Linked DNA regions of Homo sapiens: region 2 is linked to region 1. The links come from fine-mapping of genetic effects on gene expression. A gene starts in region 1. The other region holds a variant in brackets. All regions are shown on one strand. Distances are between the middles of the regions.

Region 1 (16,403 bases):
TTACATCAAGGGAAAAGGAGGTAAGAACTATTTTCTGGAAGGCCCAGAACATCAGATAGGAGAAAGAAATTAGATACCAGATACAGGTTACATGCTATCCAGGTAGATTATTATCTCATTTATTTCTTACAGCATTAGGATTGAATTAGGTATCACTAGCTAGAATTTTATATATGAGCAAACCAAGCTGGCTGAGTGATATATATAGGACTCCACCCAGGTCTATCCTATAATGAAAGCCTGACCTACTTTTTTCGAAACCATACTCTTTCCCAAGGAGTCTGAATATCTTAATAGGATAGGTGGCCAGTGAAATTCTTCTCATTATCTAAATCATTGCTTAAGGAGATTAATCTGACAGTGCAATATAGAATATGATTATGTATTTTGTGTCCTTATATGAAACCTAAGGACGGGAGCTGGAATACATTTGACCTGTATATCCTAAATGTCTAGGTGCACTGATTAGCATGTAATATTGTCTCCGTATATGTACTGACTGAAGTGAAAATTAGTTTATTATCAACTTGTTAAAAATTTTGTCTATATTTTATGTTCTATCCGAGGTGCTACTTATTGATAGAAGTTTGCAACAAAATATGTTTCTAATTCCAATTCAATCTGATGAAAAGATATCTTCCTCTTATCCAATCCTCCTCATACCTAAAAATTTCTGCCACTTACAGAATTATTGGAGAAATTGTGAAAAACTTCCGTGAAGATGTAAACTGTACTCCATAGTCCAGTTGTTCCCAATGAGTTAGGAGCCTTGCTTTACCCTGGTCAGGAGTTTCGAAAGGTGTTCCTTTCACTGCATGCAAAAATACGTACATCCCCTGGAAAACAAGCAAGGGGTTATAAATGATCAATATTAAATACAAAATTAGTCTTTGTCAGTAGCATTAACGAGGTTCCAAGCTGTTTGTGAGAGTGTGTGATTTAACTGAGTTCGTTTTAAGCTTTCATATAATAGTGAAAGGCTGTAGCCAGTTTCTTTATAATAAAATAGAACTTTCTGGGGTATAAAAATATTAAGTGAGAATTGGTAAAAGGTCAACTGAAAGTAACCTGTTTGCATTTCTATTCGTTAAACTAAAAATAATTATCAGGGTAGCTTCATATCTTTACATTCAGATTTTCTTACACTTTTCCTATTAGGAAATAGGATTACTTTTTCCCCAATGTACAGGAGGTTTTTCTTCAGGGTATATTAGTAAATTTGATGATACTTAAAAAATGATAAAGACATACAAAGTGGTAGAAAACAATAAAATGATTAAAATCTATTGGGAAAAATAGTTTTGAGATATTTAATATGATGACTGCCTTTGCCTTAATAGTTCTCTTCCAAAGCAATAAAAATAGTTTGATATAATAGGTATAATGTTCCACTCAATTCCCTTTTTAAATCGCTATTGTGCCTCAATAGCATTTCTTCTGAAGTCAGTTTTAAAAACTCAAAGCAAATAACATTACTAAAAGCCATTCTGTCAGATCATATGTCTAAACATATAATTTTTTTTATCAATAGGGTAGAAAAAAACCAATCTATAGATTTGGTTTCCTTGAGATTATGATACCCATTTAGACTCATAGGCAGTGTTTCATTCAGGATCACTGCTTGAGGCACTTTATGTAAAGGGATAATGCCTAAATATTATCATGACACAAAGTTTTTCCTTCTAGACGCCACAATGTGATGTCATTTTTCCTACCTCTACTTTTAATGATTATATAGAAAAATTAGGGATTTGAAATTTTATATGATACCAACTTAACCAAGCCCTTCCTTTCAAGGCTTAGTCTACTTCCTAGTTATTCCAGTAGGCAATTCAGAAGTCGTTTAGCTACAATAACACGTAAGCTATGGAGGAAAGGACTCATGTTCAATTGGATTTAACCCATCAAACATTTAATAGGTGGCTTATATGTACAAGACATAGGACATATATGCACATATGAAATTGAATGAGATGTACCCAAGCCTTGGAAAAATTCAATCCTCCAAGAGATGATAAGGAAAAAAAATGCATAAACAGCTAGAAAGTAGGGCAGAAATTGCTATCAAAGGTACAATCAGAATACTCAGCAAATGGCAGGGGAGGGAAAGGTTCCTTGTTGCTGTGCCAAAAGTCTTGATGCTACTTCATTACCTCATTCTTAAAGGTTCAGCTCAAATAACAATTCCTTAGAAAAACCTACCTCATTAGTAATAATTAATCTCCTCTTTATGTAGTTGTATACAATTTTATTGAAAATACGATTACAGTACAATATATCATGTTAGAGTTGTTTGCATGATGTTTGTTTTCCCATTAGCCTGAATACACTCGGAATAAGCACTGGGACACCGCAAGACATTAGACATTGGACACTTCCAACATTAGAAATGTTGGAAGATGACATTACGCCAAGGAGTATTTATTCTGTAAGCTCTACGAAACCATTTTCATATGGACTTTAAAGTGAATTATAAAACAGAAAGTATATGTTTTCAAATCATCGGGGGTATAGGACCCCCAAAAAGTTAAGAACATCTATTCCAGACCACATAGATATTAGAATATAAGAGAATAATCATCCTCTCATTATTTCCTTCAAACCATATGTACTTAACTAGTGTTTAGAATATCAAAACAGTTTATTTTATACATCTTTTCAGTGAAAAATAATAAAATCTTATCTGGCCATATATCTACTGCCCCAATATTTTTTAAATTGTTTTTATGTAAAAATGTTTGTGATTATTATTCCTCCATTAAAAGAATTAGAGAACAAAAGTATGTAGCTCATGCTTAGTCCTTACTAAATACCTACTGAATCAAAATGAATCATTCATTTTTAAAGCTGGGCCAAGAATCCTGTGAAGCATTAATACCTCTAAGGGTGAGGTAGCACTTAATAAAGCAACCACTGTAGGTTTCTACTGTACGGTTCAGAAAGGCAAATATACTGTATTTTTCTAACCGGGTGTAACAATTAGGTCCATTTTCTCATTTTTAAAGGCATTCAATATGTACTTCAGATTTTTAATTGGTTTAATGTGGCTATATTCAAAGGAAACTTAAATTTGGAGTCATGTAATTGCAACTCCGATGGCTAATTAAGTTTTTAGTGTGGTGAACTAATAACAAATAAATCAGAAGTTTGCTTTTCTATACAATGTCAATTACCAATCATTTGTCCATGGTCAACCAACTTGAAACACGGTTAGGGGGTGGTGGTGGTACAGGGATGGCATCTAAACCGTGGTGGCTCACACTCAGCACTTTGGGAGGCCGAGGCGGGCAGATCACCTGAGGTTGGGAGTTCGAGACCAGCCTGACCAACATGGTGAAACCCTGTCTGTACTAAAAATACAAAAATTAGCCAGGCATGGTGGTGCACACCTGTAATCCCAGCGACTCAGGAGGCTGAGGCAGGAGAATCGCTTGAACCCAGGAGGGGGAGGTTGCAGTGAGCCAAGATCGTGCCACTGTACTCCAGCCTGGGTGACAGAGTGAAACTCCGTCTCAAAAAAAAAGGACTAACTTATTCGGCAAACATTTAAATACGTTCTTAGCGATACAAAAATTAAAACATAAAGAGATAAACTGCTAATTATAAAACAATGACAAACACATGATAAAAGAATGCAGCATGGGAGTTGTGTAGATTCCTGGAGGGACAGTTTTGCTGTAGGAAATCAGGCAGAGCAGGAAGGAGGGAGAGGTATTAAAATAGTAGAGACTGGGCCGGGCATGGTAGCTCACACCTGTAATCCCAGCATTTTGGAAGGCCAAGGCAGGTGGATCACCTGAGGTCAGGAGTTCAAGTCCAGCCCGGCCAACATGTTGAAACCCCATCTGTACTAAAAATACAAAAATTAGCCAGGTGTAGTGGCACATGCCTGTAGTCCCATCTGTTCAGGACGCTGAGGCAGGAGAATTGCTTGAACCTGGGAGGTGCAGGTTGCAGTGAGCCAAGATTGCGCCACTGCACTCCAGCCTGGATGACACAGAGAGACTCCATCTCAAAAAAAATAAAAGTAGACCCTGAGTACTATGGCTCACTCATGCTTTGGGAGGCTGAGACAGGAGGATCACTTGAGGTCAGGAGTTTGAGACTAGACTGGGTAACACAGCAAGACCCCCATCTCAATCAGTCAATCAGCTGAGCATGGTGGCACACACCTATAGTCCTAGCTACTTGGAAGGCTGAGGCAGGAAGATCACTTGAGACCAGGAGTTCGAGGCTGCAGTGAGCTATGATCATGCCACTGCACTCCAGCCTGGGTAACAGAGTGAGACCCTGTCTCTGTAAGAAAAACAAAATGGCTGGGCATGCTGGCTCATGCCTGTAATCCCAGCACTTTTGGAGGATGGTGCAGAAGGACTGCTTGAGGCCAGGAGTTCAAGACCAGCCTGGGCAACATAGTGAGAGCCTATCACTATTAAAATAAAAACAAATTAGCCGGGTGTGGTGGCATGTGCCTGCAGTCCTCAAATTTATTGGGAAGCTAAGGTGGGAGGAGCTATGATCACGCCAGTCTCTTAAAAACAAAAGAGTACTTGGTCCAGGTGAAAAGAAAATATAGTAGAAAAGCTTAAGCCAAAACAATAAAATGAGAGCAAGATGATTTTCTTTATTGCTAGTGTATAGCCTCTATTTAGAGATGGTTGAGACAAGGTGAAGTCTCCTTGTTTCTGCACTGTTATCAACTGGTCTTATATGTCACACAAGAAACTTGGATTTTACCATGACTGCAATGGATGATCACTGAATGACTTAGAGTATGACTTGAGCAAACATGCATTTTTAAAACATCACTCTGCCAAGCTGGAATGGAGAAGGGTAGAGAAGCATCAAGAAGACTATTTGATTTATCTGAGTAATTTACTTGAGGAAAAAATGAGGGTATGGGGATCAAGTTGAGAGTAAAGCAGTAGAAGACAGTGCTCTGAGCAAATGGATATGGAATATAAAGGAAAAGAAGTTATCCTAAGACTTAGGTGACCTTGTATTCTTGTTTGCATACGATGGTTCTGATTATACCTAATCTCTTGTAGTAGTTATTACCAAAGCTCCATTTTACTCTCTAAACAGCCTGTTTGGACTATACATTACAGGTTGAGTATTCCTTATCCACAATGCTTTGGAGCAGAAGTGTTTCAGATTTTGGATTGTTTTGGATTTTGGAATATCGGCATATACATAATGAGATATCTTGGGGACAGGGCCCAAGTCTAAACATGAAATTCATTTATGTTTCATATACATCATACACACACAGCCTAAAGATAATTTTATATAGTATCTTTAATAATTTTGTGCATGAAATAAAGTTTTGATTGCATTTTAATTGCAACCTGTCAGGAAGTCAGGTATGGAATTTTCCGCTTGTGGCACAACACTGGTGCTAAAAAAGTTTCTAATTTTAGAACATTTTCTATTTTGGGTTTCTGATTAGGGATGCTCAACCTGTATATTAATTGCTTTACCATTAACATTCAGCTGTCTGGCTTGGCCTTTAGATAAGATTAGTAGTGAAGCCAGAGGATCAGATTGTGGGTGGTAAGGGAGTAATCAGGAATAAGATAAGTTCCATTTATACTTGTTTGGTTTAAGGTGCAAAGTAATCTGGTGATAAAAATAAATAGGAGCATCCTTATTCTACAGGTAGAAACTGAAAATATGGGTAGATGAAGTAACCTAGGTAGAATACATAGCATAAGAAGAGATGAAGAAAAGAACCTTGGGAATAGAAATATTTAAGAGAGGAAAAGAGAAGGAAGACCCCATAAGAAGAAAGAGAAGGTCAGAAATATATGCCGGTGAAAGTGATCCTATAGAAGCCAAAGGAAGTTTCAACAAAAGTGAGATGATTAGTGTAAAATATTTCAGAGAAGTCACTATTTAAAAGAAAACATCGTTTGCTCTTACAAAGTCTATCACATAAAATGGACTAAATGGACACATATTTATCATGTCTACCAGCACATCATTCTTATCCTCCTCCAGTCAACTTCAAATATACTCCAGAAGATAGAAAATAAATATTATTGTTATTATTTGAGGCAGGGTCTCACTGTCACCCAGGCTGGAGTGCAGTGGCACGATCTTGGCTCACTGCAACCTCCACCTCCCAGGCTCAAGCGATTCTCCTACCTCAGCCTCCCGAATAGCTGGGACTATAGATGTGCTGCCACCATGCCAGGCTAAGGTTTTGTATTTTTTGTAGAGACAGAATTTCAGGCTTCACCATGTTGCCCAGGCTGGTCTTGAAATCCTGAGCTCAAGTGATCTGTCCACCTCAGCCTCCCAAAGCACTGGGATTACAGGCATGAGCCACCGTGACTGGCCAAAATAAATATTAATTTTTAAAAATCAATTTCTCCTGTTTTCCTGTCTTAATGCTTTAAGTTCATTTTAAAAAATATCTTTCAACAAATGTACTGCTAAACTGGATTCAATTAAAATCCTCAACTAACTGTATTTCCTCCTTTTCACGTTACTTTAATGGGTTATTAAAGACAAGAAAAGTCGCTGTCAAGATTTTTTGTTTTTGTAAAAGGCAATTTCCAGGGCTGCATAATATGGTCAGTACAGTCAATCAAAACTTTGATACTCTGTAGAGCTAACACAAGAGAGTAACAAGCAGCAGCTAAGGCACCATAAGATCCTGAATCACATAAGATGATTAAGTTCAAAACTTAAATACTGAAACAGTGAAGTATACTTACACTATTTAGATAGATAAGTTAACAAGGATTGAAACTAAAATGATCTATTTTCTAGATTCTATACAATGAGAAAAAAAAAAGTCTTACTTAGAAAAAGGACCAATGTTGAAATAAAGCGTGAAAGAAAAAAGAAAATTCTATCCCAGATTAGAATTCTTCAAAATTAAGTCTTATATACTAAAAACTACTAAACTATACACTTTAAATGGGTGGATTTTATTGCATGTGAATTATATCTCAAAAAAGCTGTTAAAAAAACTAAGTTGTATACAACACAAAACCTTAAGCTTCTTTAAAAACTATGTTTAAACACACATGTCATAAAGTTTACCATCTTAGACACTTTTTTTTTTTTTTTGAGACGAAATCTCACTCTGTCACCTAGGCTGGAGTACAGTGGAATGATCTCGGCTCATTGCAACCTCTGCCTCCCAGGTTCAAGCGATTCTCCTGCCTCAGCCTCCCGAGTAGCTGGGACTACAGGCATGCGCCACCATGCCCGGCTAATTTTTGTATTTTTAGTAGAGATGAGGTTTCACCATGTTGGCCAGGCTGGTCTTGAACTCCTGACCTTGTGATCTGCCTGCCTTGGCCTCCCAAAGTGCTGGGACTTTAAATGTACAGTTGAGTGGTATTAAAAACATTCATATTGTTGTGCAATCATCACCATTACCATCCACATCCAGAACTCTCTTCATCTTGCAAAACCAAAAACTCTGTACCCATTAAGCAATAACTTTCCATTCCTTCCTCCCCTTAATTTCCGGCAACCACTAAACTTAAAACTTTTAAGTGTTTAGTATAATGTGAAATTCTTACCAGATTATGTATAATATTTGTTAAAGTCCAAGCAACAGGAACACTGAAGAAGGGAATGCTGAGTAAGACAATATGAAGCAAGCCAACTCCCAATGCATATGTCAGCCACATACCCCGGCTGTTCATGACACGGGTATTTGGATTCACTTCACTGTGGGCAACTCCAACGTTCATGTTTGCTCTGTAGGAAGTAATGAAATGAATCAACACTGATACAACTGGCAACCTAACACCCCCAATTCTGACATGACAAGGTACCTGTGTTGCGAGGATTATTTTTTCCTAGTTACTTTGAAGTAGCACACAAACACCATCCAAAATATGCTACTTGTAGATGCTGATGACAGCAGTAAAGAATCTTCAGCATTTGACTTTAGGGTAAGACAAGACTTGTTATTATGGTTCTATTTGAAAAAATAGTTACAATGCCTTTCCAAAAGTTTGTTTTCTAGCATGTTGTTTTACTGAATAGGAAAATTCAAACTGAAAGAGAAAACCTACATTTTCTTATATCATGAGAGCAAAGTGAAAAGCCAAAAGCTAAATTTACCAACATAATAAATTTATATTAAAAAGAAAAAGCAGAACTCACCGAGCCAGTGTGTCAAGTAGTCAGACTCTTATATTTGACTTAATGTATCCATAAAGAATGGTCAGAGTTCAGATCACTTCTTTCTGAATACTCAATGTGGAAGGTACATGCTGTTGACATAATGTGGTGTAAAATTTACATGGTCAAGGGATAATGTTTGTTTCTCAATTTTGTGATTAAACTAGGTGAAAATAAGGAGTCTTCTGAATATTTCTCTAGTCAAATCAAAAACTTCAGTTTTCTTTCTTCTTTTTAAAAAAGGTTTTCCCTTCTCCTTTCCATTGAAGATGGACTCCAAAGGAAGAATTGATAATAGTTCTCAGTTCTTTTAATGATGGTGTTTACTTGAGACTAAGAATTGCTTAAAATAAAACTGTCCTGAAGAACACCTATCATCCGACGGAGGGGGAAAACGAGGCTAGATTATATTTGGAACAGCTGTGATTTTAAAATACACAAACGCTTGTATTACGGAGTTAGCATACAGAGAGGAATTTCTCATAACCCCTTCCAGCAAATGTTTCCGGAGTATAATGCTCCTTCCGCTCTAGAGACCCATAGAACAGGCATCAAGGGTTAAGGGGACGAAAAGTTAGTTACACTAAGACCGCTAAAGCCTCCAATTTATATGTGTAAATCTTTCGTCTAAACACCCATGATTTATCATACATTAAACTATTATGTCATACTTAGAACATGCCAACACTCAAGATAGTTTTCCCACGTTCCACAGGATGGAGGCCTGAAATTTACATCTCAGCTGGAAGGCAAAGCTGGTGCGGTACTCATCCTATTCCAACCAGAAAACCTTTTCCCAGCAGGTTTGCCGCGCTGCCCACGACTGGCAAACAATGACCTTACAGACCGTGAAGAGGCTGTTGGCTCTGCCCTCGCCGGTGCCTCCGAAGACGGCGACCCGCAGCGGCCCCTCAGGGGAGTCCCCCCTGCTAGACCGACAGCCCGAGCGCTCTGGGCCAGAGAAAACTCAGCAAAAGCCGCCGCTGCTACCACCTCAGCGCCTCCCCCAACCCGCCCCTTCCTTCTCGCGGCCGCACGTCACGTCAGGACCCTGGCAAGACAACGAGGATTTGCGTAGGGGGCGAGCCTCTGAGGCCACTTGGCTCTTACGGCCACGCAGGGCGCCGCAGATGCAGCCGGAGCCCGCTTTTCCCTCTCAGGACGACCCCTAGGCCGCCAGCAGTTCCCTACCGACGAAGGCGACTGTACAGCGTCCACCGCGTTCGTGCCCACTTACCCGCCGCCCCACTCCGGGCCGCCGGCTCGCAGCAGGACCAGCCCGGCTGCTACGGCCGCGGATACACGCCCTCAGGCCCGGCGCTGCGCAGCTTGCGGAAGCTTTCCCGGACAGACTCGCTGCCAGCGGATTGGCTGCGAGCAGCGCCAATCTCACGTTGCCCCCGGGCGAGGCGGGACTCAGTGCCGCGCTCTCTGCACCCGCTCTGCCGCGCGCGTGCGTGCTGGGTGCGGGTGCGGGTGCGGGGTTGGGCCTGCGCATCGGGTGAGACGCTGGCTGCTTGCGGCTAGTGGATGGTAATTGCCTGCCTCGCGCTAGCAGGAAGGTAGTGTGGTGTGACTAACGGGTATTTATTATATCCTCGATGGCTCGAGGGCCCCGTCCCCTCTACTCGTCCTGGTCCGGGCGCGAACGCTATAGGGCAGCTAAGGGCGCTCCCCGCGGGGCGGGAAGCGAAGCCGGGCTTGCGGGCGCGCACACGTGGAACGCGTTTTCTGAGCAGGTCTGGGCTCCGGGGTGTTCTGGCTTGGTCTTTGTTGCGTCCCATTCCCCAGACCCTTCTGGGTGGAGGACTTAAAATTTGTTTTCCAGGCAGCAGATTTAACCCATGGCAACTGTAACTCATCTTGTGTGAGTGGCGGTTTATAGTATTGTATCCTGTGGCATCATACAAGGGGTGCAAGTTAAACTCTTTAAAGTTAATCACGATTTTTGCTCTTGGCCTTCTGGGTTTATCCGTACGCCGAAGACAGGCACCTGTATTACATGCTAAGGAAATGTGAATACCAAAAATTGATCCTGAGGAAAGTCTTGATTAGGTTTTTTTGGAATCGCCTTTGAAATGTAATTTCCCTCACCTTGGCAGTGCAGAAAGTTTGTGATTTTTATTGCCGAAATAGCTTTCAACATTTTGAAATTGACTTAAGAGAATGTTGGCTGTGTATGTCTGTATCTTGCATTTCTGTTGGCTTTGTGAACCTAATTGTTTTGGATTTAGTCTGATCTTTAAATAAATGATTTCTTTGTGTTCTCTCTAATGGAAGTCTGTGAGTTCTCTGATCTTTACTTCTTTTTTAGGCACACCTGTTGTCCTTAACTGACTTTCCGGGTCATCAGCACTTCTTCAGAAGTGTTCCTTTTCCCTCCCAGCAAATATGGAAGACTGACTATCCTGATATTCCCAGACATTCTTTGCTGTGATTTGTAAGCCCGATATAAACCCTTCCATTTGGTACACATATGGTATAGAGTGCTATATTCCAGGGGCTATGCTAGCGATGTGTGATTGATATAAAACCCCTGTCCTCAAAGAACTCTGAGTCAGGAGCAACAGACAGAAACACATATTAATAGAGTAACTTGTGATGAGGTTAATTAGAAATGAGGTAAAGGGGGACTGCAGGGGAAGGAATACCTAATCTGTTGGCAGGTGAAGGAAAGGAGGCTGCAGCAGGGAAGAAAGGCTTGAAGAGTTGATACTGAACTAAATCTGGAAGGATGATTAGAAGTCAGCTGAGAGAGAACCATGTGAGCTGAGGAAGGAGTGAGTGTCACCATGTTAAGAGAGACAAGTTGGCTGGGCACGGTGGCTCACACCTGTAATCCCAGCACTTTGGGAGGCCAAGGCGGGCGGATCACCTGAGGTCAGGAGTTCGAGACCAGCCTGGCCAACATGGTGAAACCCTGTCTCTACTAAAAATACGAAAATTAGCCGGGCGTGGTAGTGCGCTCCTGTAATCCCAGCTACTTGCAGGGCTGGGACAGGAGAATTGCTTGAACCTGGGAGGCAGAGGTTGCAGTGAGCCAAAATCGCTGCACTCTGGCCTGGGCAACAAAGTGAGACCCTGTCACAAAAAATAAAAAATAAAAAAAGACGAGCTGTGCAGTATGATCGCCCTAGAGCACATTTGGGCAACGATGGGATGACTGGGAGAGGAGGCAAAAATCCAGTTGTTAAGAAGTTTGTACTTAACCTGGTTGGCAATTGGAAACCTTTATAAAAATTTTAAGTGGGGCAGCAACATGATGAAATTTAAATACAGAAAGAACCCTATAGGTGGTTGAGATTCGAGTCAAAATATCAATTAGGTGGTTATTGCAGTAGTTCAGGAGAGAAAGGCCGAATGGAGGCAGTACAAAGAGGAGAGGACTAGTTTGGGAAACATTTAGATAGTAGGAGAGAGATGACTGGGTGGCAGGATGTAGAGAGCGAGTAGAATTTCTAGGATGACTTCAAGGTTTCTAATTTTGCTTTATGTGCTTGGATGGAAGGTGTTTGAGAGCATGGCCTTTGGAGTCAAACATGCCAAGGTGTGCATCTGCCACTTAATAGTTTTGTGATCTTGAGCAAGTTACCATGCCTTTAAATCCTATTTGGTGATAAAGGATGATAGAATACGTAGAGTTGTTGTGAGGATTAAATAGGATAATATATATAAAATTCTCATGTTGGCTATTACTTTTATTATCAAACAAGAAATATAGGAAGAAAGTTGATTAGAGGCCAGTCGTGGTGGCTCACGCCTGTAATCCCAGCACTTTGGGAGGCCGAGGCGGGCGGATCACCTGAGGTCAGGAGTTTGAGACCAGCCTGGCCAACATGGTGAAACCTTGGCTCTACTAAAAATACAAAAAATTAGCCAGGTGTGGTGGCGGGCACCTGTAATCCCAGCTACTCGGGAGGCTGAGGCAGGAGAATCGCTTGAACCCGGGAGGTGGAGGCTGCAGTGAGCGGAGATTGTGCCATTGCATTTCAGCCTGGGCAACAAGAGCGAAACCTGAAACTCTGTCTCAAAAAAAAGAAAGAGAAAGATTCTCTGATCAGTTTGGGACATGTTATGTTTAGGTTGCCTTCAGGTCATCTAAATGATGATATTTAGAAGGTAGATGGAAGTAAGGCCCTAAAGTCCAGAAAAAAAGTGTGAGATACAGGTGAGCTGGAGGATGGTGTGGAAGCCAATTGAAATTATGTATATAAAGGGAAGGAGGATACTTTTTCTAATGTTTGCGTTAGCATAAGAAAGATGCTGATAAATTATATTTAGTGGTCCTTCATTAATATTCATGAAGTGAAGGGCTTGCCATGGGTGAAGCATTTGATTGTTCTGCCTGGCATCCAGAGATACATAATACATAATTTCCTACATTCAAAAGTTGTACAGCAGGAAAAAAAAAGTTTTACAGTTCAGGACAAAGATGTAGTAGGTTTAATTATACAATTTAATTAATTTAATCTTTACAGTTATCTTACATTGATTATAGGACAAAATGATATTTGATATTTTGAATATATTAGATTATCCAAATACGTAATTAAGATTAACTTCACTTTTTTATTTTTTTTTTAGCTTTTTTAATGTGAGTACTAGAAAATTTTAAATGATGTATGTACATTATAGTTCTGTTGAACAGTGCTGGATAGAGTACTGGTTAAAATGGCAGGCTCTGAAATCACGCTACTTTGGTTTTATCCTAGCTCTTACTAACAGCTATATGATACTGAGGAAATTAAACTTTCTAAAACTCAATCAGCTAATCTATAAAATGGAGACAATACAGATATCATATGCTTATGAATTTGGTAGAGACACAAATATTCAGACTGTAGCAATTAGGAGAGAAGAAAGATGACATGACATGGAAGAAGAGTATGAAAAGAGATGCAGACATCTTAAGACCAGAGGATGCAATGGGATGGGGTAGATAAAGTGTGACAGAATTCATGCTATGAATTGCCATGATCTTAGTAAACTAGAAGAATGAGGAATATTGGGATGCAATTATAGAGATTTAAAAAAAAAAGATCTTGGATTTGGCATTGTAGGAGATGAGGTATTATAGGAAACGAGACAAAGATGATGAGATTAAGACTGCTCAGAAGGAGTCAGTCTAAGTTTATACCCCAAAGTTTTGTTGATCAGTGTTTTTCTTAGATCCTTGGGATTTCCTAGCTGAGGTGGAAGACTTCTTGAACCCAGGCCTAATGTGTGAGCCCCTTTGGGGTAGGGGTTAGAGGTGGGGGGATTGTTCATTTAGGGGTTTAGAGGAGCTCAGTTTAGTCCCAGTATCCTGGGATGTTTTTAGCACTTATATGCCAAACACTGTAATACATTATTTATATATACTACTTTATTTACTTCTCACCACAATCATATGATATCATTATTAGATCCATTTTATAGATTAGGTGATTGCATTTTAGAGAGTTTAATTTCCTCAGTGTTACATATCTGTTAGTGTAAGAGCTAGGATAAAACCAAAGTAGTGTGATTTCAGAGCCTGCCATTTTAACCACTGCTCTATCCAGCACTGTTCAATGGAACTATAAGCCACATCTATCATTTTAAATTTTCTAGTAGTCACATTAAACAGATTTTTTAAAAGGTTAGTTTTAATAATATATTTTATGTAATCTAGTGTATCCAAATAGGATAAAATCATTTCATCCTATAATCAATGTAAAAAATTGATATGATTTTTATTAATGCTGAGTTGGAAATTGAGTGTGTATTAGCACATCTCAATTTGGACTACCCACGTTTCTAGTGCTCTAGTGTTCAGTAAGCTACATATGACTGATGGCTACCATATTGGACAGTGCAGATCTGTCCCTTAGATCGAGGTAATTCTGAAGCTTTGGAAAAGTGCAGAGGTGCCTTTTGCTTGTGACAGCACTAATTTGTGTGAATGTTATGATGATGGAGTAGCCTATAGTCCACTGTTTCCCTGCTTGATTGGGACAGGAAAGCCTCCCAGCTGTTGAGAACAACAAAAACAACTATTGAAAGGTAGTTGTTCACAGCTGCTCTCCTGAGAACTGGGTACCCCAAAACTAAATCAAATATATAGATTAATTAGAGGGTAGTTAGTATTTAAAAAGAATTCTCAGCATTCCTTTACATAATGATCTCTTATTATAATACTCTACATTTTATAAGGCCTTATCATTTGTAGAACAACACTTTATATATTCTTCCTTATTTGATTCTTCACAGTAAACCAGTGAGGTATTAGCTCCATCTTTACAGATGATGAATTGATTTATGGAGGGATTTGAGTGATTTGCTCCATTTTTATAGATGACAAATTGATTTATGGAGGGATTTCAGTGATTTGCTGAGTTTATGTGTAATAAAGGTGAACCCCCAATACCTATTTTATAGGCTCTGGTCTGTTACATTTTTTTCATTGTGCCAATCACCTTTGCCTTCTATATAGCAAAATATACTGTATTTATGAACTGTGATCAGTTAACACTCTCAGAACCCAATATGTCGGCCTCTTCCCAGAAGTGCATTCCTTAAACTCCTGTGTAATTGTTATAGTGCCTGTACTCCATTTCCTACTCAATTACTGAGTCTTTCTTTACATGTCTTTGTCTTATGCTGCCTGAGAAATAATCCTAAACTGATGACTTTTTGTTGTGTTTGTTTTCGGTGTTGCTATTTTATTTGCACCTAGATTGCATAGGATTAAATCATCATAGGAGCATGTAACTAGTCATGGGAAACAAAGTACCTTGAGTCCACCCCCAGCCCCCATTTTTTTTGGTCCAATAAAATCTTGATTCTGCAGAGGAATTGCATGTTGTCAAGCTTGTGCTTATTTTCCTGTAATCTTTTCTGAAATTAGGCAATAAGATGCAAAAAGCACCCCCCTCCCTGCATGCTTTACAGATGGAATTTCCATAGGACGTTTTTGGATTTTTCGTTTGTTTGAACAAAGGATTTCCAGTTACCAACAGAGATTTTGGATCTGCAGGTTGGATCTATAAAGGACCTCAAATGCCAACTTAGAGATTTGAGCTTTATATTATTGGCTTTGAGGAGCCACATGATTAAAATAATGTCGTAGGCAGAATAATATAGAGGATAGTTATCTGACATGTCTGGTATGAGACCAGTTCAGATTAACAGTAATCCTAACTCTAAAGGAGCTCAGTGATTGAAAAAGACATTATAATTCATCAGAATGTATGGATGACTAATGATGTTTAAATGAGACTGTTGGTAAGGCACATAACTGATTGTCATTATCCACTTCCCAAAGTTATATTATCACTTGGTCATTCTCAGCCAACATTACACTCATTATAGCACAATTGTTCTTATCATTATTCAGTTATTACCATAGCATTTGTTTTTAAGAAATCTTTTTAGAACATGCATGTCTTGATTCCAGTATCTGTGAGCTTTCGGTGATCTACTGTAATGAGTTTGGACCAAGATGTAGTTGGCACAGACATTTAAGGAAATATATTTGAAATAAAAATCTCAAAAGTACCTGGGCCCAGTTACTTACTCAGCTTTCAGCCTCTTAAATGTCCATAATAATAAGTATAATGTTTTATTCATAGTACCTACTTTCTATGGTTTAGCGGTTTAAATGCAATCCTATATGTAAAGTGTTTAGCATACTATATATTTAATGTAGTAGTTGCTGTTCTTATTGTAATCATCATTTTAATAAACGGCAGTATAGACTGGGTGACCAAAGGTGAAGAGTCATTGAGGCTAATTAGGAAATTATATTGGGAACTAAATGTGAGAAATACTGAGAAAAGAATTGATAGGATTTAGGAGTTGATTAGATTTGAGTCAGGGTGAATGGATAATTCCTGTAGGAAAGTTGTGGGTTTAGGGTAGGGATTGGTAATTATACCCGGAGTTTGAGCTAGTGATTATTTCAGCAGGCAGTTGGAAATACAGAGTTCGAGTTTGCAAGAAAAGTCAGAATATAATTAGTCACACAAAATCCTGGAAGAAATTAGAAAAAAAGCAATTTCTTCCTCTAATGTTATTGTGGACTTTTTTTTTTTAGGTGCTTGTGGCAGAATATTGTGGATTTTTTGAACCCATTTTTGGTTATTTTTATTCATAGGCATTTATATGTATTCATATATTAGGTATCAATAGAGGAATTGTTGAAGGACTTGCCTTAGCTCTGCCTCTTAATAACTGGATGACCTTGGACAAGTTTTCTAATTTCTTTATGCCTTAGTAGTTTTATAAAATTG
Region 2 (16,403 bases), 30 kb before region 1:
TGAAACCCCATCTCTACTACTACTACTACTACTACTACTACTACTACTACTAATAATACAAAAATTAGCCAGGCATGGTGGCGCGTGCCTGTAATCCCAGCTACTTGGGAGGCTGAGGCAGGAGAATCGCTTGAACCTGGGAGGCAGAGGCTGCAGTCAGCTGAGATCGCACCACTGCACTCTGGCCTGGGTGACAGAGTGAGACTCTGTCTCAAAAAAAAAAGTAGAGGGTACCCCCACAAAAAAGTTTACCTGCATACTTCTCTTTTGTAATTCTGTCTACCTAAAATATCTTCCTAATTACAAGCCCATATTGATCATTTTCTGTAAGGCCTTCCCTATTATATCACTTGAAAGTGACTCCTGTCTTATTTTGCTTTTCTCAAACCATGCATAGAAGTAAGTCATTATTTAAACAACCTGTAAATATGACTTTGCTGTTTTATATCTGAAACAACTTACCTATCTGAATTCTCAGGGCAGAGACCACATTTTTTCCATTGATACTCTATATAGTTTTGTACATAGTTGGTACATTACACTTGAATGGACTAGATCTGCAGAGATCAGAGTCCAGATCTCATATTATTTATCCCTTCCTATTAGATATGTAATAGGGAATATAAATTACTTGTTAATTTCACATATCTGCTTAGTGCTTGTTCGTGTAGGACCAAAATCAGTCTTGATACGTTGTCCTATCACGAAAATCAAGGATAGAAACATTCAGAAGTCAAGATCAGTTTGCTAGAGTCACAAACAGAAAGGAAGAGAATTTAAAAAGACAGTAAAAGGAGAGGAAACAATTTCATGTATTCAGCCAGTATATGAGGGAAGCTAGGTATGTGGGGAGGCTATATAGAAATATATATAGAATATCATGGGTAGAAAAGCATCCATTTTTTATATAGCTTCTTGAATGTTAGAGTAATTTACATAAAAGAATAGTCAGTTCACTCTTCACTTTAACACTGGTTTCTAAACAACAACCTGTTTATCAGTCATGATCTGATGAAGTTTTCACAGGTTTGTAGTAACATAAGAAAAAATAAGGGCAAGGTAGCACGTTTCTGATAAAATTAATTTCATTCAATATCAAGTCCATCATTTTGAGATAATGCCTTTTACACTTTTTTTAGTATTAAAATATTCTTTATTTTACATAATGATATTTAAAGTAGTATTCGTTCTCTTATTGGTGCTAACTTGACATAACAAGCTAGCAAACCATATAGTGGTCCCCACAAATTTTTGGCCCCTGACATCTAAATGTCTGGAAGTACTGATCTGTTCTCTTAGTATGTTTTAGTTATGTAAAGAAAATAGAACTACATAGAAGTAGAAGTAATGAGACTATACCTAGGGCTCTCAGGAGAGACATTTAATTGTGGCTAATTTTTAGGGAAGGAGCACCGAAGAAAATTAAAACCTAAAATTCAACCAAAAGATTCTTTGACTTTATTACCTCCTGTAACTAACTTCATGGGACTCTTCAAAGCAACAAAAAAGACCAAGGATTCCCATAATATTTTTTCTTTTTCATCTACAATTACATCAGATATCACAAATGTATCAAGACCAAGAATAGTGTGTTTGAACCAACTTGGGAAACATGTCCAGAAAGCCAACCCAGAGCCTGCAGAAGGCTAATAAAACATTTTAGAATGAAAGGATTCCTGAGCCATCTTTTAAAAATTTTTTTATTTTTAATAATGGTAATATGCAAATAACATAACTGAATAATCTTTTTGAATGAAAGTTCTTGATCTCGATACTAAGCAGATTTTCCTTAGCATGTCTACAGGAATTTAGTGTCAGGTCAGAGTTATGGTTTCAAAAAATTAGGATTTCTGTAAACAAAGGCCTGCACTTAAACCTTAAAATTTATTGACTGACATGAGTGGTATAACTAGTGTATATATCAAGAGTTAACATTTTTAAATTGGTGTGCAAGAAGCCTGATTCAAAGTAGCTCACATGGTAACATTTATTGTAATACTTTGAGATATTTAGTAATAAATATTACAAATGTATAAGTCTTCTAAGACCCAAAATGTATACCTTAAGAAACATTTTGGCTAGGCATGGTGGCTCACACCCATAATCCCAGCACTTCTGGAGGCCAAGGTGGGAGGATCACTTGAATTCAGCAGTTCAGGACCAGCCCGGGCAACATGGCAAGAGCCTGTCTCTACAAAAAATAGAAATAAAGTTGGCTGGGCATGGACATGCACACCTGTAGTCCCGGCTATTCAAGAGGCTAAGGCAGGAGGATTGCTTGAGTTCAGGAAGTCAGGGTTGCAGTGAGTTGTGATCTGGCTACTGTACTCCAGCTGAGGTCAGAGAGTGAGACCCTGTCTCAAAAAAAAAAAAAAAAAAAAAGTCTGAGAGTCAGTGGATGAAGCAGAAAAGAAAAATTAAAAAAGAAAATAAAACAAAAATTTTTTAAAAGGGAAAAAAAGTTTTATTTAAAAATAAAATCTGAAATCATTGCCCATCAAGTACATGAGTATGGCTTTTGTGGCTAACAGTGTTGCTCATTCTCCATATTTATAGTGTCTTTGGTTTGCAACTGGAAAGGGTAATAGTCTTTGTGGCTTAGAACCATATGATGTCTTTGCTCAAATAGCAATGTCTGCTTCTCCTATTTTATAGCTGCAGATAGATATGATACAAACACCTGGCTTCACTGTGTACTTTATTTTACTTACTTACTTATTTATTTATTTATTCGAGATGGAGTCTTGCTCTGTCACCCAGGCTGGAGTGCAGTGGCAGGATCTTGGCTCACTCCGCCTCCTGGGTTCAGGCAATTCTCCTGCCTCAGCCTCTTGAGTAGCTGCGGTTACAGGCGCCTGCCACCACACCTGGCTAATTTTTGTATTTTTAGTAGAGATGAGGTTTCACCATGTTGGCCAGGCTGGTCTTGAACTCCTGACATCAGGTGATCCGCCTACCTTGGCCTCCCAAAGTGCTGGGATTACAGGTATGAGCCACTGCGCCTGGCTTCACTGTGTACTTTAAAGCTCCCCTTTTCTCCATCCACTTGCTGAATTGCCTCCATACAGTCTGAGGGTCTTGCTATAATCCATTCTCTACCTGGGCTGCAGTAAGCATTGAAAGTATATATTAATTAGCGGTTATTTTCCCCGATATGTACTTAGGGCTTTCTATGTGCTAGAGTCCAAAGTCAGTGGGTGAGTGAGTGGGTGAATGAATTATTATTTATTTATTTGTCTGTTTAAGACAGGGTCTTGCTCTGTTACCCAGGTTGGACGGCAATAGTGCAATCATAGCTCACTGTAGCCTATAACTCCTGGGTTCAAAGCAATCATCCCACCTCAGCCTCCTGAGTGGCTAGGGCTACAGGTTCTCAGTCTTTGTTATGCTGAGTGTGGTGGTACAGGCGTGTAGCCCTAGCTACTCAGGAAGCTGAGGTCTCTGCTATGTTGCCCAGGCTGGTCCCGAATTCCTGGCCTCAAGTGATCCTCCTCCCTTGGCCTCCCAAAGCATTAGGATGAGCTACCATGCAAAGTTTGTGTTCTTAACCACTAAAAAATAAGAGACCTCTTTAATCTTCATATTTACTTCTAAATTATCTTAATGGTGCTGAGTCACAACTTTCTGGTGGATTGACTGAAATATAGGAAATGCGGAGGGAAATGGTCTATTTTATACTAGAAAGGGATACATATTCAAGTGATGAATTGTGTTATCCAGCACCATTAAGGATAAGAATTTATAACAATGGAAATATTAAGTTTCTGTAGATATTTTTAAAAGCCTTTAGAGAGCAACTTTTGAGCTCTGAAACTGGTTTCAGGTAGGCTCAAGACTATACTTTAGGACTATTTTCAGGTTATCAGAGTTTCTTTGCATTCAATGCCAGATATTTCCTGAGTATCTTGGCCTAGCCAGACCATCCTACCACTCCTAAAATTTATACTACTTCTCCTATAAATCTCCCCTATAAAGATTATTTTTATTGGCTGGGCATGATGGCTCACACCTGTAATCCCAGCACTTTGGGAGGCCAAGGCGGGTGGATCACATGGTCAGGAGTTCGAGACCAGCCTAGCCAGCATGGTGAAACCCCATCTCTACTAAAAATACAAAAAATGAGCTGGGCATGGTGGTGCTTGCCTGTAGTCCCAGCTACTCGGGAGGCTGAGACAGGAGAATTGCTTGAACCTGGCAGACGGAGGTTGCAGTGAGCCGAGATCGAGCCATTGCACTCCAGTCTGGACAACAGAGCGAGACTCTGTC[T/TA]AAAAAAAAAAAAAAAAAAAAAAAGATTATTTTTATTACTCCACGGTTTTTTTTTTTTTAAACAATGTGTGAAAAGTCAGGCCCTGGAGGCTGAAGTTGGAGGATTACATGAGCCTAGGAGTTCTACTCCAGCCTGGGCAACATAGCAAGATGCTGTCTATAAAAATCGAAATAAAAAATTATGTATGAGAAAGGCCTCCAGATATAGAGGGTTACATTCAAAGAATTGTACATTTAGTTACTTTAATCAAGGCAGAAAAACAGTGATAAGCTTATAATATTTGCAGTACAAAGTTTGGATTAAAAAAAAATCCAAAAAAACTCCCTCATTTATTTCCATCTGATTATATACAATTTCTCAAATAACTGATGTGAAAGTATGTGGACAACTAAAGCGTACAATACATACTTGAGGGATTACTTATATGTTAAAATTGTAAAACCTCAAATTATATAGATTTTAAAAAATGCATAGACATCCTATTTACTCCAGAGATGATACCTAATAACGAACTCTTAAAATTAATAACATATTATGTTAGAGAAAGTCAGCTTTTGTCTTGATTTGGAAATGTCTGCTTTGACATGACTGATCTAAAATTGCTCTCTTGAGCACATCTGTAATCCCAGCATTTTGGGAGGCTGAGGCAGGCAGATTGCCTGAGCTCAGGAGTTCAAGACCACCCTGGGCAACATGGTGAAACCCCATCTCTACTAAAAAAACAAAAAATTAGCCAGACGTGGTGGTGGGCTCCTGTAGTCCCAGCTACTCAGGAGGCTGAAGCAGGAGAATCGCTTGAACCCAGAAGGTAGAGGTTGCATGCAGTAAGCTGAGATCACGCCACTGCAATCCAGCCTGGGTGACAGAGGGAGATTATCTCCAAAAAATAATAATGATAAAAAAAAATTAAACTGCTCTCTCATTATAAAGTCAGGTTCTTGTTTCAGTAGGAGTTAAAAAATAGCTTCTCCTATCCTGATTTGAGGAAGTGGGGGAAAGTCCTAGGCCTGTATGATACAGGGCCAGAATTCAGCAAAATTACTGTGCTTCTTTCAAAGCTTCCTTTCTACCTGCCAGCATCAATACATTCCTTTCTCAAAAGATGTTTTATTTTGGTTTTTAATAATTAAAAGAAAAAAACTATCTTCCCTTGTAAGACTTTTAACACATTATAGTATCTCAGAAGAGCAGGTAAAACATCAAATAGAAAAAAAAAAATAAAATCTTGATGAATAATTAATATTATATATCTTCTACAATTTGATACACAAAACAATAAAAACTTAATTTTAACCTTAATACTACCTTTAGGGACTTTTTTGAACAGCAGAAATCATATCTCCATTTTTAATTGTGGTACTTTTATGGAAGCTTCTCCAACTTCTTTTGATATGTCTACTCCAAGAGGACATCTACATCATAAGCAGACAAATCGTATTATTTATTTGCTTCATGATCCATCACTAGTTCTGCAGACTATTTGCTTAGAATTCTGATGGTATAAATATCAAATATTTAATTCATCATATGTGGTGATGATTCTTAAATACTTACAAATATACTGGGACCTCAAGTCAGGATAATGAAAGCTAGTCTCATTAATAAGAAATCTAAATTTTGAGATATTTTTGAAAGAAACAGTTTTGCTGTTCTCAAATACTGTAAATAAGTTAAAAACATAAAATGAAATATAAAAATAATGAAAAATATCTTATAATTCTCTACAAAGCTAAAAAGGTAAAAACATTTTTGCCACACAGCTAAAGTCAAACCTGTATCCATTCACATTTTAGAAATGTCCTAGGTTTCTATAGGTTCTTCTCTGAAGTTTCAAAAGCTGCCTTGCCCCTTTTCTACCATCCTTTGCCATTACTAGCCAAAGAGGTCTTAGTTCCTGCTGTCTTTTTCTGTTCCTCCTCAGTAACTAATTTTTGCTTCAGATTTCTGCTTTTCTACCATGGTGTCCAAGATAAGGCTTTGCTTTGACTGAATCCCAACCTGGAAAAAGCCATTATCTCCAGCCTCAACACTGCCACAAGGGGGCATAACTGAATCAGAGGATATACTCTATCTGAGACAAGGTATCAAAGGGATGCCTTCCGGTACTACTAACTCAATTCAGTTCATTCATCATCAGCATACATGTAATTCATATATAGCACAACTGTCAAGTTACGGAATATAATGCTGACAAGTTGTGTTTTTTTTTTTTTTTTTTGAGATGGAGTCTCACTCTGTCACCCGGGCTGGAGTGCAGTGGCGTGATCTCGGCTTACTGTAACCTCCACCTCGAGGATTCAGGCAATTCTCCTGCCTCAGCCTCCCGAGTAGCTGCGATTACAGGTGCCTGCCACTACGCCTGGCTAATTTTTGTATTTTCAGTAGAGACGGGGTTTCACCATGTTGGCCAGGCTGGTCTCGAACTCCTAACCTCAGATGATCTGCCCACCTCAGCCTCCCAAAGTGCTGGGATTACAGGCATGAGCCACCATGCCTGGCCAATGCTGACAAGTTTTAAAACATCAGATGAAACAGTGTTCAAAATATAATTATTTATGAAAATAATTGTCTTTTACTATTCCAGAATTAAAACAGAATTTGATAGTAATTTGAAAAACCAGCCAGGTGTGGTGGCTCACACCTGTCATCCCAGCATTTTGGGAGGCCGAGGTGGGTGGATCACTTGAGGCCTGGAGTTCGAGACCAGCCTGGCCAATGTGGCAAAACCCAAAAACTAAAAATACAAAAAATGAGCTGGGCACAGCTGTGTGAACCTGTAATTCCAGCTACTCAGGAGGCTGAGGCATGACAATCACTTGAATATGGGAAGCAGAGGTTGCAGTGAGCCGAGAATGCGCCACTGCACTCTAGCCTGGGTGACACTAAGACTCTAAAAAAAAAAAGAAAAAAAGTAAAGAAAAAACTGTGCTATTCACTGGAACTTTGATTTGGGAGAGGAAATAAGGCTTGCAGGAAACAGCTATCTTTCGGCCAATTCTCAACTGCCTGTGTAAGAGCATAATCACAACCCACTCTCACACCTGAATGCTTTCTGCATGTTTTCCTTAAATTTCCCAGCATACTTGCTGGTTCTGAGATGTTCTTGACATTGCAAAAGTCCAGGTCATGGACATAGTTTACATTCTAGTTCCAAAGGAGGGAATTCATCACCCTTACTCATGACCTGTTTCTAACTCACCTAAACTTGCCAAGATTTTTATAATTTGATACTGTAGCAAAAATATTTCTCATATGGTATCAACCTTAACTAGGTTCATGAAAGAAATTTATGTAACTTTCCTTCAAGTACCACCAGAATGTCAATGAAAACCTCATATATAAAGGCAAAATCCAGGCTTTGTCTTAAGTAATGTAACTTGCATAAAGATCATGAATGATACCACATACTTTGGTTCATAGCGGATGCCTTCTATGTCATGTAAAATGCCCAAGCCAGCACGTAGTCTTTCAATACCATTCCTAAATAAGAAGCATTAAAATAAAATCAATAGCTCCAAGATCTGAAGGAAGAAGGCTTAGTATGATAAAATGGCAATTAATATTTACATAGTTATGAGTGAAGCACGTATATCCTGTGGCTTACCATGCAATCATAATGCCATTATCAGTGCATAGTCTGGGAGGAGGACACAACAAAGTGCACTGTGTTGCATTTGTTAAAATTTCCAGAGCTCTGCGGATATAGAAGTTACTTGCGACACCACCAGATGCAACCTGAAGGAATTGAGAAAACCAAAATAACTATCATATATGGATATGAACCAAGCTGCTAATTAAACCTGGAGAAAAATATCAGCATTAAACAATAATAAACTATCCCATTTTGAGATGGGTAATGGGCAGATGACATATCTATGTAATAAAAATTTGGAAAGAAAAAAATTACTAATAATTCTAATAGCATACAAACATTACTAGCATTTTTGTATATTTTCTTCCAACCTTTCATCTAAATATTTATTTAATATAATTTCAATCATAGTACACTATTTTAGACCCTGAAATTTTTATTATTTTGTGCATTTTACTACATAACTCTGAAAAAATTATTCTTTGATATCCATGTAAAATTCCATCTATGAATTACTACCATTTAAACATTTTCCCACTTTAGTTTATAATTTTTAAATGAATAAAGTTTAAGATACAGTTAAACAGGATGTTTGTCAAGGCTTTTAAGCACAATTAAAGGGATTTTGGCTGGTACAATATAGTGGATTATCAGAACTTTATCAACATTAGTGTCACGAAAGTTGGTATACCACCTCCCACTGCTAAATTTGACTGGCTTATTAAAAAAACAAACAAACAAAGGGATTTCATCAAAGGATGAAGGAAATCCACCTATTTTTCTAAAAATAGTGATAGCAGTTACTGCATTTACTTTCTTTATTGTAAGCCCTCTTTTAAATCCAACAAGAAGATGCAAAATTAGACTTATGTGCCATAGAAGCTATACAGCTGTCCCATAAAGCTACCAAACTAGTACAAGAAATGGCTGTTAGTCTTTCCTATCCTGCATAATTTCATACTGTCAGGGCTAGCATAAGGCATAAAGATCTGTTCATCCTAAACACAAGGTCAAGGTCTTGGGAAAAAAGTAACATATTGCAAAGTGTAACTATTACTATAAAATGAGATAAAACTTACCAGTACTGCATTATTTTGAGGTAACAAGTCTCTCTGCTTACAAAACAGAATAGCCCGATGTGTTCTTTTCACAAGATGACATGCCATTGTGTGCTGTACTGTGGCAGCAATGTCTGCTGCTGAAGACAGGATTTGCCCCTTCTCAATACCTGCAGAAATGAGCAGCTATTTTTAGGCACAATCCAGGAATATTTATCTGTTCAACTTTACTAATTAGAAATATACCTTCCTCTTTTTCCTTTTTCATTATTATTTTATCAGTAACGTGTTGAAGTCCAGTAAAAGAAAAATCACAATTTTTAGCATGATGCAAGGGAGGTTTGATGTCAAAATGAAATCTATTTCCTTGTTTGGCCAAATGTTCTATGGCTTTCCCACCACTCATGGTGGAGCACTCTGGATGTTTTATTAAAGAAAGTCTTCTTGCCACCTATCAAAGAAACATATTTTTTAGAGTCATAAAATTAAATACTGTGAAACGAAAAGATGCAAAGGAAATAAATTGAAAATTACTAACAAAACAAAAAACCCCTGAATGAATAAAACATGCTATACTTTGGCAAATATAGACTATAGCTGATATTCAGGTAAGCAGACAACCCTGTTCCTTATGATGACCCGAACAATAAGAGGCCAATCACTGCCCCTGTCTATGTTTGCTCTTCTATTGGTTGGAAAATGGGCTTGAAGTTGACAATAACTGCTTAATGATGAACGTCAATAATAAGAACTTGTCCTATACTTCCTATTATTTCACTGTGGGAAGCAGTGTTTTGTTTGTTTGTTTGTTTGTTTTCCTATATATGGCAGTAGCCTCTGTAGTATTCTAAAACAAAGGGGGGTGGGGGGGGACCCTGTCTGTGGTGTAAGTAATTGTGTGATTTAATTCTGTGCATTGCATCTTTAATGTCCTTATGTTAATCTATATATATTCTCTTATTTTACCTTTTTTGCAGTATGTTAGTTTACGAAGCACGTTCTTTCACATACATTATTTGGCAAAATACATAACTGTATCTGCAAACTATTTCAGCCTTTATGTACAGATATGAACCTCTTACCATTTTATTAAGAAAGGCTAAGAATTATAAAATTGTGTACTACTCTTTCTATTTTTTCTCACCATATGTGAATTTTTTTCAGTTTACTAAGATAAAATTCAGAAATATTTAGGTGAATGGTGGTAGCACATCTATTGCTACTTAGTTGAAATGGACAACATAACAAAAAAGAATGGAGAAATTAATTCTTAATTACCTTGTCAAGCATGTCACCTGGTGCTATGTCCAAAGACTTTCCAAGAAGCAGAAAATCTGAAACTCCTTGAACTAATGCCAACAGACAGTGACCTCCAGAAATCAAAAGAACTAAAAAAGGAAATTCTACTTTATTGGTCAACCTAATAGTAAGTGCATGAGCCTCCATATGATGAATGGGAATGAATGGCTTTTTTAACTGTCCTACCAGCTGTAAGCTAAATGATAAGCCCACTCCCAGGCTTAAAGCAAGTCCTGGTTTTATGGTAGTTGCAATTGCTGAGAGGTCACTTGGAGAGACTCCACTGGCAGAAAGAGCTTCTTGTACTATTCGTTGAATATTTTCTCTGTGAAGCTGTTGAGCTGCTGGAGGAACAATCCCACCTGTTCTGAAAGAAAGAAAGACAGCATTTTGTAGTTTTAAGATTGTAAAAATGAAGAAAAATGATATTACAGCTAAAAGCATGTCTTCAAGTTAATCATTATATAGCTGAGTAAGTCAAGTATTTTCTAATTGTGTGCCTTCTAACATAGCACACTATGGTTAAAACTCAGTAAGCAGTAATTAAGGGGATAATGTTTCTGACTTTTTCAGTTTATGCACAACAGACTCCCATGGATTTGTTTGTTGACAAATGAAATCACCAAAATAATCTTGTAAAGCATTCCATACAAGTTTTGAGCATGGGAAGGACAGGAAAAAATTGTATTTAAGGAAAATTAATTTCCTTGCTGACAGAAGATTTTAAGAGAGATTACTGCGAAAGTATTTGTGTAAAATGATTATATCTTAAACTGGGCGATTGTGGGAATGGAAAGAAAGGGACAGAGAACCTTAAGAACTATAATAACTAACTGAATATAAAGGGACAGGGGGACTAAGGCATCAAAGTTTGTTCAGCTATTCAGCTGGAATGACCGGGAGAAAAGAAATTCTAAAAGAGAAACATGAAGACAGTTTTATAAAGACGACGAGTTTATTTTAAAACACATTCCACTTGAGGTCACAGCAGGATAGCAGATAGCTTGCAATCCTGAAATACAGTTTGGGAATCTGGTGCTCAGAGTTTGTAATTTGGATTTTTGGTCCATGTAGGATGGTGGATGGCCACTCCAAATATCAAGTGTAAAGAACTAAGAGACAAATTTGCTAGCAACAAATTTGCTACCATGTGATTGATTTACAATATGAGAACTGGAGCAATAAAATAGAGTCTGCAAAACGCACTGCTAGTTTCAAAAAAAAATCATCTTCCAATATTTGATGTTGCAAGATCTACTAGTTCTATGTGTAGAAATGAAAATCCTCAGTAAGTGCATTCAATGAATATTTGCTGAGTAATTAAAATATTGTTTCAGGCAATGAGGGGGATATAAATGAAATGATCTGATTTCAACACATCCACATTGTAATATAATTTTCCTTAATTCTTCAAAGCTACTTTTTCTCTTATATTCCTCATCTTTGTTAGTGGCATCAAATAACCCTTGGGTTTCAAAGTTCATCTTTACTTCCTTTCTCTCCCTCACTCTCCGCATTTAAGTTTATCACCACTCCCACTGCCAAGTCTCAAAAGCCCTCATCTCAGTCTGTTCAACAGTCTTCTAATTGTACTTTCCTAACTCTGTCCTTTGATCCTTAGAGCCCATCCTATATTGCTGCCAGAGAATACTCTAAAGCACATGCTACCAGTTATTCCCCTACTCAAAACCTTTAGTTTCATGGAATTTGGGAGACATCAAATCCAAATTCTCTCCCTGCAACTCATTTCTTCCTTCTCTGTCTTGCCTCCCTCCTTTCCTTTCTATGCCTTTTCTGTGTATTTTATCTTCCAGGGATTATGCTAAACACTAGGGCCAAATAAGAACATGGCTTTATTCTCAAAGAATTAATAATAACAATGTATTTTTGTCTATGATTTGTAGACAGTATGGAGTGTGGATTATGGAACAAAGCTAACAAAGAGGCAGGGAAACCACTGAGGCTTGAAGCTATAGCCAAGAGTCTGTGCAAAAGACAATAAGGGATTGAACTCAGTCAGTGAGAAGGGAGAGGAAAGTTGCAAAAAATATTTGGGAGATGGATTTACTATGAATGGATGACTGATTTGGATGTGGAATGGTGAGGGAGAAGTCAAGGGTGTCCTTCAGGTTTCTGGCTTGGAAGAAGGGACTCCTCCTGCCAAGTAATCCTCTATTATTGCATTTTCCATGCTGTTTCACAATGATCTGCTTACTGTCTTCTTCATTTTTACTGATGGTAGTAGTAGAACTACTATTGTTACTAAGAGCTAGCTTGTATTCAGCCCTTGCTATTCAAGAAGAATGCCCTAAAAGCTTTAAAGGAATTCACACTTAATATTCACAACATTAATTTGAGTTAGTGGTCATTATTATCATTTTACAGATAAGGAAACTGAGGCACAAAAAACTGTGCACAGTATCAAATGTAGTAAATGGTTGAACCAGAATATAAGCCTAGTAAATGGCTGAACCAGAATATAAGCCTACACTCTAACCCACTTATATGGTGAGCTGTTCAAAGGCAAGAGTCATATGTCTCATTTATATTTGTATCCCAAATGCCCTAAGTATTGCCTGGCAGCTATAGGTATTCAAAAAATGCTGAGATGAGCCAGGTGGATGGTATCACTGAAGCCTGTTTGCCCAGTAGTCTCCTCAAGTGACCTATGCTCTAGCTAAACTGAATGTCTAGTACTTTCTCACTTCTTTGTCTTTGCTGACAATGCTCACTTAGTGATATGGTTTGGATCTGTGTCCCTGCCCAAATCTCATGTAGAATGGTAATTCCCAATGTTGAAGATGGGGCCTGGTGGGAGATGACTACATCATGGGGGCGTATTTTCCCCTTGGTACTGTGTCGCGATAGTCAATGAGTTCTCATGAGATCTTGTTGTTTAAAAGTGTGGGCCGGGAGTGGTGGTTCACGCCTGTAATCCCATCACTTTGGGAGGCCGAGGTGGGTGGATCACTTGAGGTCGGGAGTTCGAGACAGCCTGACCAACATGGAGAAACCCCATCTCTACTAAAAATACAAAATTAGCTGGGCATGGTGGCGCATGCCTATAATCCCAGCTATTCTGAAGGCTGAGGGGGGAGAATCGCTTGAACCCGGGAGGCGGAGGTTGTGATGAGCCAAGATTGCACCATTGCACTCTGGTCTGGGCAACAAGAGCAAAACTCCATCTCAAAAGAAAAAAAAAAGTGTGTAGCACCTCACCCCCCCTCTCTCGGTCCTGCTCCTGCCATGTAAGACGCCTACTCCCAATTTGCCTTCCGCCATGAGTAAAAGCTCCCTGGGCCTCCCCAGAAGCAGATGCTGCCACGCTTCCTACACAGCCTGTGGAAACACGAACCAATTAAACCTCTTTTCTTTATAAATTACCCAGTCTCAGGTATTTCGTTATAGCAGTGCAAGAATGAACTAACACAGGTTATAATATTCTTTCCATCTCCATTCACTGAAGGCCTAACGAAAGGCCACTGAACACCTGTGATGTGTCAAACATTGTGTTAGGCACTAGGCATAGCATAGTGATTAATATAGACATGGCCCCTGTCACCTTGGCACTTAGACTCTACTGAGAGAGATTATACATACACAAGCAAATGTATAAATTGTGAAAGTATTACAAAGAAAATATGCAGGGTATGATGATACAGAATAAATAGGATGGGAGTACCTAATTTAGATAAAGTGGTCAGGGTAGTCCTTTCTGTGCCATTAACTTTTACATGTTCAAAAGTTCAGTGCACTCAGGAAAAACTGAAAGGACTGTGAAGCTGAGGCACGGTAATAATAGTTACTGTCTGCACCACTTGTTTTTCCTTATGCTATGCTGCCTTGCACTATTAATTCTCCTTGTAGGTCTAGACATCATGTCTCCATAATCAAGTTAAGCTTCCTTAAACCAAGGACTTTGCAGTACTTCACAGTGCCTTACTAATATCCAACACAGTCCCTTTCACATAGTTATTGTTTGAGGCTCAATCTGCCTCTTTACATACATTATTTCTAATGCCACCCTCCCGTAATTCTATGAGGCAGATGTTAATTTTCCTTTTTTTTTTTTTGAGACAGACTCTCACTCTGTCGCCCGGGCTGGAGTCCAATGGCGCGATCTCTGCTCACTGCAAGCTCCGCCTCCCGGGTTCACGCCATTCTCCTGCCTCAGCCTCCCAAGTAGCTGCGACTACAGGCGTCCGCCACCACGCCTGGCTAATTTTTTTTGTATTTTTAGTAGAGATGGGGTTTCACCATGTTAGCCAGGATGGTCTCAATCTCCTGACCTCATGGTCCACTTGCCTCGGCCTCCCAAAGTGATGCGATTACAGGCGTGAGCCACAGCGCCCAGCCAATTTTCCTATTTTACTGATGTGAAAACAGAATCAGAGAGGATATGGAACTTGCCTACAGTTACAGAGCCAATACCAAGTGCTTAATTCAGGATTCAAATACAGGACTGTGATTCCAAAATACCAGGCTTTTTCACTATTCAGATGTTGTAAATTGATAGCTTAAAGGTATACTCATCTGTAGAGTATTTTATTCTTATTTATTTATTTATTTATTTTTTTAGTATTTATTGATCATTCTTGGGTGTTTCTCGGAGAGGGGGATTTGGCAGGGCCATAGGACAATAGTGGAGAGAAGGTCAGCAGATAAACATGTGAACAAAGGTCTCTGGTTTTCCTAGGCAGAGGACTCTGCGGCCTTCTGCAGTGTTTATGTCCCTGGGTACTTGAGATTAGGGAGTGGTGATGACTCTTAACGAGTATGCTGCCTTCAAGCATCTGTCTAACAAAGCACATCTTGCACCGCCCTTAATCCATTTAACCCTGAGTTGACACAGCACATGTTTCAGAGAGCACGGGGTTGGGGGTAAGGTTATAGATCAACAGCATCCCAAGGCAGAAGGATTTTTCTTAGTATAGAACAAAATGGAGTCTCCTATGTCTACTTCTTTCTACACAGACATATTAACAATCTGATCTCTCTTTCTTTTCCCCACATTTCCCCCTTTTCTATTCGACAAAACCGCCATTGTCATCATGGCCCGTTCTCAATGAACTGTTGGGTACACCTCCCAGACGGGGTGGCAGCCGGGCAGAGGGGCTCCTCACTTCCCAGAGGTGGCGGCCAGGCGGAGGGGCCCCCACCCCTAAGACGGGGCGGCTGCCGGGCAGAGGCGCCCCCACCTCCCAGACGGGGCGGCTGCTGGGCGGGGGCGCCCCCCACCTCCCAAGAGTATTTTAATATATTCTAAATTAGCTACTAATGTAAAAAATCTGCAAATACATTAACAATCTGGATTTCCAGCCCGGCGCGGTGTCTCACGCCTGTAATCCCTGCACTTTGGGAGGCCGAGGTAGGTGGATCAAGAGGTCAGGAGATTGAGACCATCCTGGCCAACATGGTGAAACCCCGTCTCTACTAAAATGCAAAAAATCAGCTGGGCGTGGTGGCACGTGCCTGTAATCCCAGCTACTTGGGAGGCTGAGACAGGGGAATCGTTTGAACTCGAGAGGCGGAGATTGCAGTGAGCCGAGATCATGCCACTGCACTCCAGCCTGGTGACAGAGTGAGACTCTGTCTCACCAAAAAAAAAGAAAAAAAAAATCTGGATTTCCATTTTCCCTTGAAAATTATAATAATCTAATAACACAGGTCCTGCATTCCCACATGACAACTGGCTAGAGCTGAGTAGTGACCTCCTCCAGACATTTTCCACTTTTTATCTTGTCCATTTATTTAGGTAACCTGCCTGGTAGTCCTCTATAAACATCACAGTTTATAATCCTTGCACCATTCTATGCTTTAATACAACAGTGTATTATTATTTAAGTACTAATACAAGTTATATGTATAAATATGAATAGGATTTTTTTTTTCAATGACTAACAGTTTTCCTAGGACTTCAGCTGAGACCATGAAACATAGAAGTGGAGAAAAGAAGGAATGCATTACTGAAGGAAAATCAATAAATACGGAAGCTGGGAATGAGCTCAGTTTCTTTTGGCAACAGGATTAGTTAAGGTTGGGACCTTATTGTGAAGACCCTTAAAAGCCAGGATGAAGTGTTTGAGGTTTTCTATAGCAGTTATTAAAAGTGTTTGCAAAAAGGAATAAGACAGTAGCTCCTGAAAACTTTTATATATGACAAATACAAAAGAATGATTTTACTTTT

The links. PIP is the estimated chance that this variant, and not a neighbour inherited with it, causes the effect.
Region 2: its variant is fine-mapped to the expression of ORMDL1 in prefrontal cortex (CommonMind, PIP 0.95).

What each region holds. Positions count from the first base shown.
Region 1 is chr2:189,774,881-189,791,283 of GRCh38, forward strand. It overlaps ORMDL1 (ORMDL sphingolipid biosynthesis regulator 1), which reads right to left and starts at 9,459. Exons shown (of 5, transcript NM_016467.5): 1 at 9,389-9,459; 2 at 8,134-8,243; 3 at 7,542-7,722; 4 at 685-836. The coding sequence starts at 7,715. It overlaps PMS1 (PMS1 homolog 1, mismatch repair system component), which reads left to right and starts at 9,570. Exons shown (of 13, transcript NM_000534.5): 1 at 9,570-9,713. RefSeq lists enhancers at 8,746-9,632, 8,918-8,997, 9,088-9,147, 9,158-9,387, 9,938-9,987 and a silencer at 9,528-9,577.
Region 2 is chr2:189,744,978-189,761,380 of GRCh38, forward strand. ANKAR (ankyrin and armadillo repeat containing) reads left to right here. Exons shown (of 23, transcript NM_001378068.1): 23 at 1,403-1,670. The coding sequence ends at 1,650. It overlaps OSGEPL1 (O-sialoglycoprotein endopeptidase like 1), which reads right to left. Exons shown (of 9, transcript NM_022353.3): 3 at 10,196-10,583; 4 at 9,164-9,368; 5 at 8,939-9,087; 6 at 7,872-8,002; 7 at 7,676-7,747; 8 at 5,573-5,679; 9 at 1,683-2,191. The coding sequence ends at 5,601. Among named protein-coding and RNA genes, the nearest start is that of OSGEPL1-AS1, 9.6 kb to the right of the region's middle. The variant T/TA (reference allele first, on the strand shown) is at 4,267.